Regions from separate parts of the Homo sapiens genome. Here region 1 is linked to region 2. The links come from fine-mapping of genetic effects on gene expression. Tissue or cell type: tibial nerve. Region 2 holds a variant in brackets; the other region holds the start of a gene. All regions are shown on one strand. Distances are between the middles of the regions.

The links. PIP is the estimated chance that this variant, and not a neighbour inherited with it, causes the effect.
Region 1: it holds the start of RIC3, and the variant in region 2 is fine-mapped to the expression of RIC3 in tibial nerve (GTEx, PIP above 0.99). The same link has a PIP of 0.9 or more in esophagus muscle, gastroesophageal junction, lung, sigmoid colon, subcutaneous fat and tibial artery.

What each region holds. Positions count from the first base shown.
Region 1 is chr11:8,165,457-8,173,561 of GRCh38, reverse strand. It overlaps RIC3 (RIC3 acetylcholine receptor chaperone), which reads left to right and starts at 4,537. Exons shown (of 6, transcript NM_001206671.4): 1 at 4,537-4,696. The coding sequence starts at 4,573. RIC3-DT (RIC3 divergent transcript) reads right to left here and starts at 4,492. Exons shown (of 5, transcript NR_187234.1): 1 at 4,373-4,492; 2 at 3,574-3,677.
Region 2 is chr11:8,305,861-8,313,965 of GRCh38, reverse strand. No RefSeq gene overlaps it. Among named protein-coding and RNA genes, the nearest start is that of LMO1, 46 kb to the right of the region's middle. The variant C/T (reference allele first, on the strand shown) is at 3,415.

The sequences.
Region 1 (8,105 bases), 140 kb after region 2:
GGATTACTGGCATGCACCACCATGCCTGGCTAATTTTTGTATTTTTAGTAGAGATGGGGTTTCAACACGTTGGCCAGGCTGGTCTCGAACTCCTGACCTCAGGTGATCCACCCACCTAGGCCTCCCAAAGTGCTAGGATTATAGGCCTAAGCCACCACGCCCAGCCCCCTACCAATACTTTATTGGAAAACCTAAACCCTTAAGATCTTCAATTTTAGTGCACTCCCAGCTCTGATGTTATACCACCAGCCACCAGAGAGAGCAGCCATCCCAGGTCCCACTCCAAGCTGCCCCAGCTCCATGAGCTGCCTACCAGCTCTGTCGCCTTAAGGAGGCTTCCATGTCTTCCAGGTGCACATCCCAACTGACTGCAACAATGAATATGTTCCAAGCCAAATACTCTGTACTATAACTGTGTTTTCACCTTTCTCTAGGCCACTTCTAGGACTAATGAGATCACGATCTCTGCCCATTTACCTTGGCCACCATCTAAATTCCAAGCCCCCAAGGTCATCAATTTGCACACTGCCCCTCATCTCCATCCTGCTCACTTCATATTTTACTTTGACTCCATTTCTGACTTCCAAAGCTTCCACTTACCGTGCTGTATAGAGTCAAGAGCTATCATCAGAAAAACTCCTATATCCTTGACTTCTTTGAAGTTTCTCTTAACTTTCTTCTTCTTTTTTCTTTTTTTTTTATTTTGAGATGGAGTCTCACTCTGTCACCAGGCTGGAGTGCAGTGGCGCGATCTCAGCTCACTGCGACCTCTGCCTCCTGGGTTCAAGCGATTCTCCTGCCTCAGCCTCCCAAGTAGCTGGGATTACAGGCGCATGTCATCACGCCCAGCTAATTTTTGTATTTTTAGTAGAGGTGGGTTTCAGCATGTTGGCCAGGATGGTCTTGATTTCTTGACCTCGTGATCCGCCCCCCTTGGCCTCCCAAAGTGCTGGGATTACAGACATAAGCCACTGCGCCCGGCCTGTCTTCCTCTAATGAAAACTAGGCTGTTGCCTCTGGGTTCTGTTTCCCTTGCAGATCTCCCAAAGTAAGAGCTATTTTTCTTCCCACAGCTTAAAGCCTGGGAATAGAATAGATGCCCAACTTGTTTCCCCTTGCTGCTTCCAAATTGCTTCTTCCTCTTCTTCCTTTAAAAACCATAGCTCCTGGCCAGGCGCTGTGGCTCATGCCTGTAATCCCAGCACTTTGGGAGGCTGAGGTGGGTGCATAACAAGGATCGAGACCATCCTGGCTAACATAGTGAAACCCCATCTCTACTAAAAATACAACAAAAAAATTAGCCGGGCGTGGTGGCGGGCACCTGTGGTCCCTGCTACTTGGGAGGCTGAGGCAGGAGAATGGCGTGAAGCCAGGAGGCGGAGCTTGTAGTGAGCCGAGATTGCACCACTGCACTCCAGCCTGGGCAACAGAGCAAGACTCCATCTCAAAAATAAATAAATAAATAAATAAATAAATAAAAATTTTTAAACAATTAAAAAAAAACACAGCTCCTTAGAAGAGCATGTCATCTGGCTGCCCATTACTTCTTCTGTTCCTGTCACCTTCCAACCTTGTAGTAACTCCACATTCATTAAAGATTTTAACACTTGGATCACTATTTCCCACCTCATTTCTGTCCTCATACATGGGAACTTCAACATAATGTTGTGACCTAGGTTTCCATTGTGGCTTCTTACAACTTCACATGAGCACTCTCACTAATGCCATCTTCTCCTAGACTTCATTTACTATAGATGGGCTGATGATTTCCTATTGTTTCTAGCCCAAACATCTCTTCTGAGCTCCAGGCCCATATATCCAACTGGATATTTCTACTTGGATATTTCATGGAACTTCAAATTCAGCTAGTCAAAATCTGAACTCTTCATCTTTCTCACAAACCTGATTCTTCTATTCTTAAAATCATGTTATATAGAATTAATGTCTACCATTTACCCAAGCTAGAATTTGGTGGCGGAGGGCGGGGGGGAGTGTGGTCATTCCAGACCCCTCTGTATTTCTTAGAGACCACATCCCATTAGTCACCTCCTCCCTAAGCTGCATCTATAGTCCAGGAGTCCAGAGGTTTTCTGACTAAACCTCCCCAGACAGTAAACCTGGTAGCTAAGAGGGCAAATTCTTGAGTAAGCATGCCTGTGTTCAAATCATAGCATCCAGTTTATACTGTGTAATTGTTGGCAAGTAAATTATGTTTTCTGGGGCTCCATTTTCTTACCTGTGAAATGGGTATATAATAATATTGCTTACCTCTTGAAGTTATTGGGAGGAATAATTATGATATGTAAGATGCCTAAAACATAATTAGTACTCTAACTTTTAGTGATGTTAATAACATCAATGATAATAATGCCCGAGTGAAGCCAGCAGTGGCACCCATCTGGCTGCATGAATCAAGGAAAGAGATTCAGAAGATATCCATTGCTTTAAAAAAATCAAACAATTTTTTTTTAGAGACAGGGTCTCACTCTGTCACCCTGGCTGGAGTGGGTGCCCCTACTGGCTTCATTCAGGCATTATTATCATCTTATATATCATAATTAATTGTGGTTTCACACAATCATAGCTCACTGCAGCCTCAAACTCTTGGGCTCAAGTGATCTTCCCACCTCAGCTTCCTGAGTAGTTGGGACTACAGGTGCACACCACCATGCCTGGTTAATTTTTTACATTTTTTTGGTAGAGATTAGGGCTCTCCCTATGTTGCCCAGGCTGGCCTTGAACTCTTGGCCTCAAGCCATCCTCCAGCCTTGGCCTCCCAAAGCCCTGGGATTATAGGTGTGAGCCACTGTGCCCAGTCTCAACTGCTTTTTAATCAGATTTCCAGCCAATCCTTCATTCAGACCCACTCTGCACCCTTGGCTTTAAAGGAACCCAGTACCTCCAATTCTTAAGAGCATGGGTTCTGAGGGGCAAATTAGTTCACTCCTTACAGGCTTTCAGTCCACAGGCATTTAACTTTTTATGCTCTACACCTGCACTGTCTACTGTGGGCGCCAACGAGCCACACTATCGTGCTGATAAAATTTGAAATATTTTTGCTATCTTGGTTTAAAATATTATTAAAATAAATTTTACTTATTTTTACTTTTTAAATGTGGCTACTGGAAAAATTTAAATTACATATGTGGCTGGTATTATGTGTCTATTGGACAGTGTTGTGTGCGTCTTACAAAATTGACATTTCTCATCTGCTGTCATGTTTTCTATCATTGCATTTAGTCTTGTAGTTTATATACTTTATTTCTTTATTTTCCTTTTTGGGCACTGTCCCAGGAAAGCAAAGATAAATGCATATGTTACATCTGTCATGTTTAACTGGAAGTTCTACCTAAGCTTTTCACAATGTAGCTCCTGCTTATATTTGTGCACTTCGTGTCCTGTCACTACTCTATGGCCCTGCCAAAATGAATTACCAATAGCTTTCTGAACACACCAGGAAGCTTCCAGATTTGCCTTTATTTTTTTGGCCTCCTTTTTCCGGAATACCTTTCTAACCCCTCCCACCTGTCTGCCTATAAGTTACTCATTTTTCAACAGCTAACTCAATTTCACCTTCTCAAAGGGGCTTTTCTTGACTTTTCCTCGTACCAGTTGAGAAGACTGCTCGGGGATCCAGAATATTTCCTGCATTTTTTTTGTTTGGATAATTATCTGTCCTACAAAGGGAATCCATTTTATTCATCAGACCCTGTAGTGCCAAGTTGAGGGTCTAATACATAGTAAAAACTAAAATAATGTTAAATGAACGAATGAAGAGAGTAACAAAGAACGGTGGGATTGTAGAGAAAGGAGAGGCTGACTGAAAACGTTTCGAGAGAGCAGTGTTTTTAAGCTGTTCTTCAGAGAAGTTTTTGACAACTGGAGATGGTGTCAGGAATTTTCCAGGCAGTGGGAACAGGACAAGCAAAGCTTCCCTGAAGACAAGCAATATGCTAAAGAAATAGCAAATCATCCAGTTTGGAAGGAGCATTGGTAAGACCAGATCATGCAGGGCGTTGAGGTTATAGAAAGGAGTTTAACTATTGTTCTGAAGATAATGGAGAGTTAAAAGGTTTAAGCTGGAGAGAAAGAGAATTAGTCTTGTGTTTTAGCATTATCACCTGTGGCTGCAGACGGATAATGAATGCGAGGGGCATGAGTGGAAGCTGGAAGACAGCGAGATCATGGAGATGAGGAGAAACTGGATGTTGTGATCTACGGGTGGGTGGGGGGCAGTGGTGGTAAGTGGGGATAGAGATCCGGGCACGACCGCCGGATGTGTAGGCGGTAGAATGCACAGGACTCAGTAAAAGATGAACATGGGGAGTGAGGGAGGAGTTTTTAGTTAGTATGAACGGGAAGGCGAGGGTACCATTTACAGCGACGGGTAACCACGCGGGAGGAGCAGGTCAACTCCCGACAGTGGAGGTGAAGATGCGTGCGCCTCGCGCACCTTGTCCCTCGCGCGACGCCGTCCGCGCCGCCCGCGGTTCGGTCGGGAGCGGCAGCCCGTGCTCCGGTTCCGGTTCCGGTTCCGGCTGGCGTCTGCACCTGCGACCACCGTGAGCAGTCATGGCGTACTCCACAGTGCAGAGAGTCGCTCTGGCTTCTGGGCTTGTCCTGGCTCTGTCGCTGCTGCTGCCCAAGGCCTTCCTGTCCCGCGGGAAGCGGCAGGAGCCGCCGCCGACACCTGAAGGTAAGAGCAGGCCAGCTCCCTCTGAGCTTCCCGGCGCCGAAGAGTACGGAGAACGCTGCTTGAGGGAGGGGTGACTCTGAGAGTCTGCAGCCTTCACCGAAATATCCACCAAACTGACTGGAGAGGGCGGGCGAGACGGCGTTGAAGGGCCAATGCCCACGGTTCCGTTGTTATCAGCGGGTGGCGGCCCAGATGGTTCTGCTGCTGGAAGGGTCAGGAACGTATGCATGCAGGTCTGTGCATCCTCTAGGTGGCCTTGCGTACTCCCGTTTAGGCGCAGTCCCTTCTCTCTTACCCCGCTGGCTTAACTCATCTCGTCACCATTTGTTCACGTGCTTTGAGTCAAGGGTTCCCAGTTGGGTTTCCCTCTTTAGGTTTTCCGTGTACTTTCTGACGCGCCGCTTGGTACGAAATCAAGGCAAATGGAATTGGTACAGCAAACCTTAAGTCGTTATGTTTTTTCAACTTGGTGCTGGGCGCTCACTGCTTCAGGCTCTTCTTGTGCCTTTAAAAATATATCTTGAAGATTTTAATAACCCCAGTTTCAGTTACTGAGGTGGTTATGAACAAATTATTACGTTCCCCTTATTGAAACAGTATTTATCTGTTAATTCTTCGTTGTTGGCATGATGTATGTGGTGTTTAAAAATTCATCCTCTTAGCTGCACTGGGGCCTTTTACAGAATGAGTGTAAAGGCACGGTGCTGAAGGCTGGGAGAAGGAACCAGAACAGTTTTCTATAGGTCATGAAGTTCTACTGGTAACTTTCTCCTGTAAATTATCCTTGTAATATCTTTGAGACATGATTTTACGGTGTCTGAACACTTCCAGTAATGTTTAAACTGTTGATTGCTGGACAGCTCCTTTTGAACTGTAATCCACTTCCGTCTGCTTTATGCACATTGACTGTAGTTCCATTCTCTTGAGCATCATACACACTATAAATGCAAAGCACCAAGCTTTAGGGGTGGAGGGCAGGTTGAACACATAATTCTGTTTACAGAATTTGCCTGATAATCTTTATGCTTGTAAGACTATCCACTTGGGACGGACTTCTAAAACATCTTTGCGTATTTGTTCTTTTTTTTTCCTTTCTGTCTTATTGCAATAATCCCAAAGATTTTTACCTGCTTTGTCTAATGATATTGTCTACTTTGAAGAAGAGTCAATTCATGATGATCCTGAACAGTGAAGATTCTTCGAAAACTTTTTTTTTTTTTTTTTTACTTTCCATTATGGTGAATTATCTTGAACAAGTACTATTGACTGTGAGTGGGAGACACTCTTCTGAACGTTGTAGAAAATGTAGAGTGGAGATTAGACATGGGTTGTTCCCTTGAGAACTCAAGTGTTGGTATTCAGTGTTCTCATGTTAGGATCTTTGTACCTTCAGTTCTCTTTATTCCTGAAGTGCTGTGCTTTTCCCTCAGTGCCCTTCTCATCATTCAAATTTCTGCTCAAATGAAACCTCCTCAGAGAGACTTCCCCTGATGACACTAACTAAAATAACTCTTTTCTCCCATCATTCTCTATTTTATCATGTTTTATATTCTTCATGATAGGCATCACTATATGATATGGAATATTCTTAAGTGTTTACTTGTTTGTTTTTTTGTCTTCACCTTCTAGAATGTAAGTTTGCAAGGGTAGGGACTTTGTCTTGTTTACCACTGTTTCTTCAGTACCTGGCATATAATGGGCAGTCAATAAATACTTTAAGATTATTAAGCTACCAATACTGTAAATTCTGTTTTTGACAAGGAGAAGCTACTGAAGTAGTATAACCTAGGAAAAAACTTACCTTGAATGGTACATTCCAGTAACTGAAACTTGCAGCAAAAAATCTTAACCATTTTGGGGTTACATACACCATTGAGAATCTTATAAAAGCTATGTATTTTCTTTCTTTCTCTCTCCTTCCTCCCTCTGTCCCTCCCTCCCTCCTTTCCTCTCTTCCTGGCCCCCTTTCCCTTTCTCTTTCCCTTTCCCTGGGTCTCACTCTGTCACCCAGGCTGGAGTGCAGAGTCATGATCACAGCTCACTGCAGCCTCTACTTCTAGGGCTCAACTGATCCTCCCACCTCAGCCTCCCAAGTAACTGGGACTACAGGCACATGCCACCATGCCTGGCTAATTAAAAAAAATTTTTTTTGTTTTTGGTTGAGATGGGGGTCTCATTGTATTGTCCAGGCTGGTGTCGAACTCGTGGGTTCAAGTGATCCTTCTGCCTCAGCCTTCCAAAGTGCTGGGATTACAGGCTTGAGCAACTGCACTCAGCCTAAAACTGTATGTTCTCTCTAGAAAAAGGTACATACTCTTATTGTACTCAGAATTTCAGTATCAATTCAGAGAATTCTCAGAACCCAGAAATCCCTGCTTTGAAGAAAGGAATAACCCTGAGTATTTGAAAATTCTTAAAAATACATGTTGTTATGTCTTCCATTTTTGCCCATTGATGTGCATGAAACAAGCACAGTTCCCTTTCCACATGAAAGCCTTTAAGATAGTCTTTTAACAAATATTTATGATGTACCATATCACATACTGTGCACATAGTGTATAGACACTATGTATTCCAAGAAAAAATGAGCGAACTCCATGCTTTGAGGCGGCCACAGTTTAGTAAAGGAAAGTAGACATGTCAACAGATAAATGCAAAACAGACATGTTAGCAGATAAATGCAAGAGTGTCAGTCACAGTTACTCAAGTCTGCGCAGGGAACAATGGAGACATGTATGCAATGGTCAGTGTTATTGGGACTTAAGAAGGGTTTCATAAACCAGGTGTGACAGCTCATGCCTGTAATCCCAGCATTTTGAAAGGCTGTGGTGGAAGGATTGCTTGAGCCTGGGAGTTCGAGACCAGCTTGGGCCACATAACAAGACCCCCATCTCTACAAAATAAGTTTGTTTTTTTTCAATTAGCTGGGCATGGTGGTGTGCACCTGTAGCCCCAGCTACTCTGTAGGCTGAGGTGGGAGGATCGTTTGAAGTTTGGAGGTCAAGGCTACAGTGAGGTGTGATTGTGTAACTGCACTGCAGCCTGGGCAACACAGTGAGACTCTGCCAAAAAAAAAAACAAAACAAAACAAAAAAAAAACCCCAAAAAACAGGTTTCATAGAACATAGAGGAGGGAAGTCTTTTTTTTTTTTGATAACAGCTTTCTTGAGATCTAATTTATATATCATACAATTCACCCACTTAAAGTGTACAATTTATTGGGTTTCAGCATATTCAGAGTTGTACAACCATCACTACAACCAATTTTAGAATATTTCTTCAGCCCCCAAAGAAACCCTGTACTTTTTAGCTATTACTCCACAAATCCCCCAGCCCACCTCCAGCCCTAGGCAACCACTCATCTACTTTATGTCTCTATAGATTTGCCTGTTCTGGACATTTGGTATAA
Region 2 (8,105 bases):
AGGCATGCTATGGGACATGGTGCCACCTCTCCCCAGGGGTGTGGCTACCTGGCTCCCAGTGGCTGCCTCAGTGGCAGGGTGTCTCTGTGGGGGTCACCACATTCCTGTGCTCTGCCTTTTCTCTGCCCAGCCAAGAGGGTCTGATTGGGCTTCCTAAGTCTGGCCTTTTGGGCACTGGAAGTGACCTGCTCAGCTGGAGCCCCACCTTCCCTCTGGGTGCCCTCCCAGCTCACATGCTCCCTGTGGTGGGGAACTCTCTCCCTCCAGAGATGCCTCTCTGGCTGTTGGAAGCCTTTCCCGGGACACCCCCACTGCACCCAGGGAGGACCCTGACCACGAGGCCCATCCCCGCGGCTCCCCTGCAGCTGCTCTTCCGTGTGGTGCTTCTGCAGGGGGCTCTGGCCCCCTCCCTGTGGGAGTCCTGTCTCCTGGTGCCCTGGGGTCCCCACTGGAGAGTATTTCCCTGCCGACAATGTCCCAGGCTTGTGCTCTCCTGTGAGTACAGCCTAGACAGGGGCTGAGTTGGGCCCCCACCCCCAGAGCCTGACCCTGGGGGACTTTAGCTAATTGTGGGCCCCGCTTTCTGGGCCTGGGGACACCTGTGGGCCTTGGGTTCCCTTTGTCTCACTTAAGAAAGGAGTCACGAGCAGTGGTTCAGAGAGGAACAATAAGCCTTTATTGCGGCTGCCCTTCTCCACAAACGCTCAACCTGCTGGCCAGCGGAGAGCCGTGCTGGCAAATTAAAAGTCTCTAAACTTTCTTTATGTCTCCTTGGATGCTCCAGCAGCTTTAACGCTGAACTGGCTGGCCTGGCTGAGAGACAAAGAGGCCAAGCTGGGGTCACGGCCAAGGCCGTAGGACAGGGAGGATCTCACTGAATGGTCCCCCACTGGCCCGTGGATGCAGATGGGGCGGGGTGGGGTGGAGCAGGTGAGGGTCTTGGCTGTGGTGCTAGGGGTCTGGGGCCCATAGGCTTGGGAAGGCCTCTTGGGGCAGTTGGCTGGACAGGGGTATGGGGTGCTGCTTCCTAAGTCTCCATTGTCTATGGATGGCAGACATGGAGGCTCCTCTAGCTGCCTCTGAAGTCCTCTCTTAAGGAAAGCACAGCCTGAAACCAGGGGCAAAGGAAGCCTGTTCTAGACCCCAGAGAGCATTAGCTCCCTTACCACCACTCTCCTGGGTGAGTCCTGAGACTGGGAGGTCACTAGAAGAGGCTGGAGGACCAGGTCTGTGCTACCACAGATGAGCACACTGCCCCTGCCACCTCCCACCAAAAACTTTGGCTCACCAGGGCCGGGTTGAGAAGGTGAGGCTGGGACAGCCCCTGTTAACCCTTGTGGTCCCGGCATTATCCACAGCACCTCTCTTCACCCTCCAGAGTGCCAGGGTTTCTTGTTGTGTGCCAGCTGGGTGCTGGGCCATGCCATCTTTGCAGGACAGCTGAGTTACAGCATCAGCAGGGAGTCACCTGGGCCAAGAAATGTCACCCCTCACCCCACAAAAAACGTGCCAGGATTTGCAGAATAGAGAGGAACTCTGTGGGGGTGTACTGACTTGGAGGGGGCATAAAGGAGCCTTCTGGAATGCTTGAAGTGACCGAGACCTTGATCTGGGTGGTGATTCCATGGGTGAGCACATACATAACAAGCCATCGACTCGCACGCTCTGCTGTATGTATATTGGACATTACGGTGATGAAAAGCAAATAGACATAGGCCCTGCCCTGAAGTACGAATGAATCCCAGCTCTCCTACTTCCCAGCTGGATGACTTTGGGCATGTCACCCAACATCTCTGAGGCTCTGGTCTTCATCTACAAATGGGGAGAACATCACCTACTTCTTTCCCACTAACCTGAGCCCTCCATGAGAACAGAGACTGCACCTGACTCTCCTCTGTGTCCTCCTTGACCCCTGCGAAGGGGCTGGCTCAAGAAATTGCCGATATAATAAGAGCCTCCTCCAGGTCAGAGGGACCTCACAGCTCCCCAGGAAAACATCTCACCTTATTTTACCAAAATCCTAGTAATAACATCTCTCTTGGTGCCTCCTCACATCCCTCCAACTACTCTTCCATAAGGGGCTTGGGGTTACCTCTTTCTTCCTTGGAGAAGTGGGGGAAAAACTAGGGGACTGAGGCTGCGGCAGGGCCTGGAGCCCTTGGGGGTGTTGGGCCAGCAGGGCTTGGTTTGGAGAGGGGCCAGAGAGGGGTTTGCTTTCCTTGGCAGGGGACGGATGGGGTAGAAGAGTGTACCTAGGACAAGGGCCCAGCAGTGAGACCTTTGCTGGGACTGATTCTCTGGGACAAAAGAGGACTTGGGTTTAGGTCATGGCTGAGGAGGATGTTTCCAGCACTGTGCACACCCGGGACATGGCCCCTGCCCGCCAGCACACCCCGTGTCTCCCAGGCCCCATCAGGCTGGACGGCCCAGGCTCCTCTTGGGGGAAGGGCCCCTGCCCTCCATCCCTCTATCTGATTGTCTGCGAGGCTAGTTCTTGGCAATTTCTTGCTCCGTTTCTTTAATCCCGGATTCTCTTCAAGCGCAGAAGGAAGAGGAAAAAGCCAAAGGCCGAGGTGGAGAATAGGGAGGGGGATGTGGGGGATATGGGGGAGGTATGAAAAGAGATGAAGGAGGTCACTCCAGCCTGAGGCACCCAGGTTTCATCCTAATGGGGACAGCAAGTGCCCTTGAGGGTCCAGAAGGGAGCTGGAGCCCCAGGCTGGGGCTGCGTCAGTCCTGCTCTTCAGCCTCTCTAGTGCTGGGAGGTCGGTGTAAATGGTTTGTGTGCTGACACTGCAGGGCTACAGTCATTTCTATAGGCCAAGAACAGAGCCCTGGGGTGAAGGTACTGGCACCTCACCTTAGTTCAGCAACCTCCTAGGCCCTGTGCTGAGACTCAGGCAAGACTCGGGCCAGGGCTCAGACACAGGCTAGGCCAGTGCTGAGGCGTGCAGGCTCCGGAATAGCATCTTCCCCACTGGCTGCTGAGAGCTGGGGGCCCAGGAGGGGCAGGGAGGGCCCTGAGAGGTCAGCTGAGCCAGCACACCTGCGCTCCTCCCGTGCCTTGCCCTGCCTCCCCGCTCAGGCCTCAGAAGCCTTTCTGCTTCCAGAGAAGCAGGGGCGGTGAGGGTCTGTGGCACAAGGGCGAGCCCTGGAGAATGGGGCTTGTGTGGCGTCTGCAGCTTCTTAGAGGAAAAACCTATTGAGAAGCTCAAATCATGGCAGTAATTAGGCTACTTATTTTGTAAAAGTCCAAATTAAATGGAAAATCTGGTGCTAATGAGAATGTTCCATTTTCTCCTTTTATTAAATCTAGCTCTGTGCCTTCTAAGAGTTTGGGAATAGCCAGCCCCTGATGTCTTTCTCACAGCCAGTTCATATCCTCTGATTGTGGAGTTGCTGAGACAGAACACA[C/T]TCACAGGGCCTCCAGTTACCGGCTCAGTTGAAAAATGTCCTTCATAAGGCAGCAGCATTAACCCACCCCCAGCCACCCACACCTCCAGCCCTTCCCCCCATCTCCACCAACCCTCTCTGGCCTATCACCATCAGCTGCGTGGGCCCCCAGAAACCCAGACCCAACAGGGAGGGGCTGGTGTGGGTCCAGGAAAGCTGGGCTTCTGGTCTACCCCTTCTGGAGCCCAGCTTCTTCTCTAAAGAGCCTGGGACCCTACCACTTCCAGCTGCCTGCCTCCTGACAACAGTCCCAGGGAGGCTGAAGCCCACAACCTTCTGATTAGACTTGCACTTAGATCCCATAATTACCAATTAGGGGCTTCAGGCAATGCAGTTTGCCTCTCTGGGCTTCAGGTCCTCACCTGTCAATTGGGGGTAGTGCTACTATTAGCCTCGTAGAGTGTTGTGAGTGTGAGTGGAGAGAAGGCATTGCAGAGCACCTGACACACAGCAGGGTGCAGCACCTGTCTATGGCCAGGTCCCTCTGAAGCCTAGTCTCTAGCGAGAGTAGGGATATGCATTCTGTCACTCTAGTCTTTCCAGGATTTCCTCTGGAAGGTTTGGCGGGGGTGGGAAGGGAGGAACTAGAGGAGGAGAATGTCTTGGGATACACCCCCATGCCAGAGTAGGTATTGGGAGGAACAGCCTATCTGGTCCTGGCCAGTAGGATGCCTGGGCTTGGGAACCTGGCTGTCAAGGATAGGGAGGTCAGGGGGTGTATGCGAAAAATCATCCCATTCAAACAAAGAGATAGGAACAGACACATAGACAGACACACACACACAGGCTCAGTCCCAGCCCTCTTCAATGGGGCTGTCGAGGCCTTGGCAATGGGTCCTCAAGGAGACCTGCAGCTTGAAGCATAAGCCACACTTAGAATCTGCATTTCAATTCAATTCCCGGTTAGTCTACCCATAAGGGTTTACCAAGAACCTCAAGCGTTTCTAACACGAGGCTAGAAGCTGGGGAGAGAGCAAAGCCACAGCCACCACAGAATAGGCCCATCAGACTCAGGCTCCTCGTCTTGGTGATGCACATCCTCACCTGAAACTCAGATGTGAAACGTGACTGTCGCTTGACTCTTCTCCCTTCATCATCCCGTCCTTCATTACCCCCATCTATGGTGTCGACTTCTTTCTTAGTTTCCTACCTGATCATGCCCTGATCCCTGCCCCACAAGGCTTCCCTTCCTGCTATCTCATTTCAGCCTCCTCACCAGGATTATTGTAACAGTCTTAGCACTCCAGCCCTCTCTCCTGCAGGCCCCAGAGGGAGCCTCCTAAAATGAGCATTTGAATTTGTCACCCTCTGCTTCAATCTCTCCAATCACTGTAAAGCCTCTGTTATGTTCAGCATAAAATAAAACTTGGTTGTCCACGCATTCTGCATCTCTGTCACCTCCCCAGCCTACTTCTTTTCTGATCATGTCCCCCTTCAGCCCACTCCCCAGTCACACCAAAGAGCCTGTGGTTTCTCAAATGCTAAGTGACCTCTCATACTGCAGGTGGACTCCAGTTGCCTTTGCCTTCTTAGGATTTTTTCTCACTTCTGGGAACAGAATCCTTCTCTCATGTGAGGAGCCAGTTCTATGTGGTTTGGATAAGATGGGCAGGTGATCTAGTCTGTGATCTAGAACAACAAGAACACCTTATTCTTCTAGGGACAATGATTAATGTAGGAATGTGGACATGGCCCAAACAGGACCTGTTAGAATCTTCTCTGGGAATTTTGGCTTGAACTTACAAAAGAGAGCACCACTTACTTGTAATGGTAAGCCAACAGGAAGTGAGTCTGAGGTTTTTGAGGACCATCTGATTCACTGTGTAGAGAAAGTCTATCTGATAGATATAGAAAGAGATAGAGGCCAGGCACAGTGGCTCACACCTGTAATCCCAGCACTTTGGGTGGCCAAGGCAGGAGGATCGCTTGAGCCCAGGAGTTCAAGACCAGCCTGGGCAACATGCTGAGACCCCCATCTCTATTTTCTAAAATTAAAAAAAAAAGAGATTAAAGCTGGCAATTAATTAAGCTTCTGGATCCAGTCTTGCCTGAAGTCATATCACATGGACTGTTCACTTATGTAAATCTTTTTTAACTTTTTTTTTTTTTGGTCTAAGCTAGTTTGAAATCTTGACTAAGACAAGGCTGAATTGATCTACAGTTGATGTTCACACTGATGGCAATTCTCATCTCCCTTGTCTTATTGGAAAATAAGTCAAATCATTTTAAAATTCATTTCAACTCTCAACTCCTTTAAGAAGTCTCTTTTTCAACAACATGATTGTGATGTGATACCCCTACTCCACAGCTTAATTCCTACTGTGGCAATTACCATTTCTGCAACCAAATATGATCATTTTGATGGGAGGACTCCTGTCTAATTCAACTCTATATTCTCTGTACCCAGCACATGACCAGACACCAGGCAGAGGATAGAAAATACGATTCCATTAACATAAAGATGAAAAACAGTCAAAACTCATCAACACTGTTTAGGAACACATACACAAGTGGTAAAACAGTAAGAACAAAGCACAAAAATGAGTACCCTAAAGATAGGGCGAGGGATGATTAGATTCTCATAGAAGTTTGCAACCTAGATCCCTCACATGCACAGTCCACAATAGGGTTCGAGATCCCGTGAGACTCTAATGCCGCGCTGATCTGACAGGAGGCAGAGCTCACTGGCAGTAATGCTCACTGGCCCACCGCTCACCTCCTGCCGTGCGGCCTGGTTCCTAACAGACCACAGACTGGTACTGGACCATGGCCTAGGGGTTGGGGACCTCTGCCCTAAGAGTCAGAGTGGTGGATACCTCTTCCTAGGGAACAGGAAGAGAATACAGCTGGAAAGGGGTATACATAAGGTTTCTGAGATCCTGGAAATGTACTGAGTTTTGTTGTTGTTGTTGTTGAGACAGTGCCTCGCTCTGTCACCCAGGCTGGAGGTGCGGTGGCATGATCTCGGCTCACTGCAAGCTCCACCTCCTGGGTTCACGCCATTCTCCTGCCTCAGCCTCCCGAGTAGCTGGGACTACAGGCACCCGCCACCACACCTGGCTAATTTTTTTTTTTTTTTGTATTTTTAGTATAGACGGGGTTTCACTGTGTTAGCCAGGATAGTCTCGATCTCCTGACCTCGTGACCCACCCATCTCAGCCTCCCAAAGTGCTGGGATTACAGGCGTGAGCCACTGCGCCCGGCCAAAATGTACTGTTTTTTAATCTGGGTGACAGTTACATAGATGTTTACGGTATATTTCTTTAAATTCTGTGTATTAACATATTCTTTTATACATATTATATAGTTCACTACAATAAAGAAAATAAGTGAGGTGCTTTGGACCCAATTTTTTAAATTGTTTTATAACTTTATTGCACTGAAGTCATAGAATCTGTCACTAATATATCAAATTTTTATTATCTGTTAACGCTTCCTTTGTGTCCTATTATATAGTCAGTTTTTATTTATTTATTTATCTATTTATTTTGAGATGGAGTCTCACTCTGTCGCCCAGACTGGAGTACAGTGGCACGATCTTGGCTCATTGCAACCTCTGTCTCCCGTGTTCGAGAGATTCTCCTGCCTCAGCCTCCCAAGTAACTAGGATTACAGGCCCCTGCCACCATGGCCATCTAATTTTTTTTTTTTTTTTTAGACAGAGTCTTGCTCTTGTTGCCCAGGCTGGAGTGCAGTGGCGCCATCTCGGCTCACTGCAACCTCCACCTCCTGGGTTCAAGCGATTCTCCTGCCTCAGCCTCCGGAGTAGCTGGGATTAGAGGCATGCACCACCATTCTCAACTAATTTTGTATTTTTAATAGAGACCAGGCTTCTCCATGTTGCCCAGGCTGGTCTCAAACTCCCGACCTCAGGTGATCCGCCCACCTCAGCCTCCCAAAGTGCTGGGATTACAGGCATGAGCCACCGCGCCTGGCAAGTTTTTAAATGTTCCACTTGAAAACGAAGTGTACTCTTTAATTATTGGAAACAAGATTTTATATATGGACATCAAACAAATGTTAATAATTTTATCTGTTTCATCAATTTCTGGAAAAGGAGTGTTAAAATTTCTCATTACAAATGTAGGTTTGTCAGTTTCTCCCACAAGTCTGTCAATTTTGCTATGTATTTTGCTTAATATCCTCTGTCAATTTTCCCTGATAATCCTGTCATCTTTAAGGAGGTTATAGTATTATGAGCAATCAGGTTCAGCTTCACTATAGATTTCTATTCAATTGTTCTTCTTGTCAGTGAACAGTCACCCTCTTTAAATCTCAAGTTTTTTAAAACCATGACATCTCTTCTGGTTGCTATTAATGTCACTATATCTCATTTCCTTTGATTATTAGTATTTATGATCTTTCCCTATCCTTCTACTTTTAAGCTTTTTGTATAATTATGTTTTAACTATTAGGTCAGTTATAAACAACTTATAACTGGATTTTAAAAATCTTATCTGGGAATATCTCCGAACAAATGGGTCTAAGTCATTTAAATTTATTGTGATTACTGATAAAATTGGAGTTTTTAATACCACCTTTTAAAATTTTTACCATGTATTTTTCTGTTTCTTCCCCTTTCCTACATTCAATTGGATTTATTGGGTTTTTTTATTACCTTTTTTCTTCTCTCTACAGCTTTGGGTGTTACA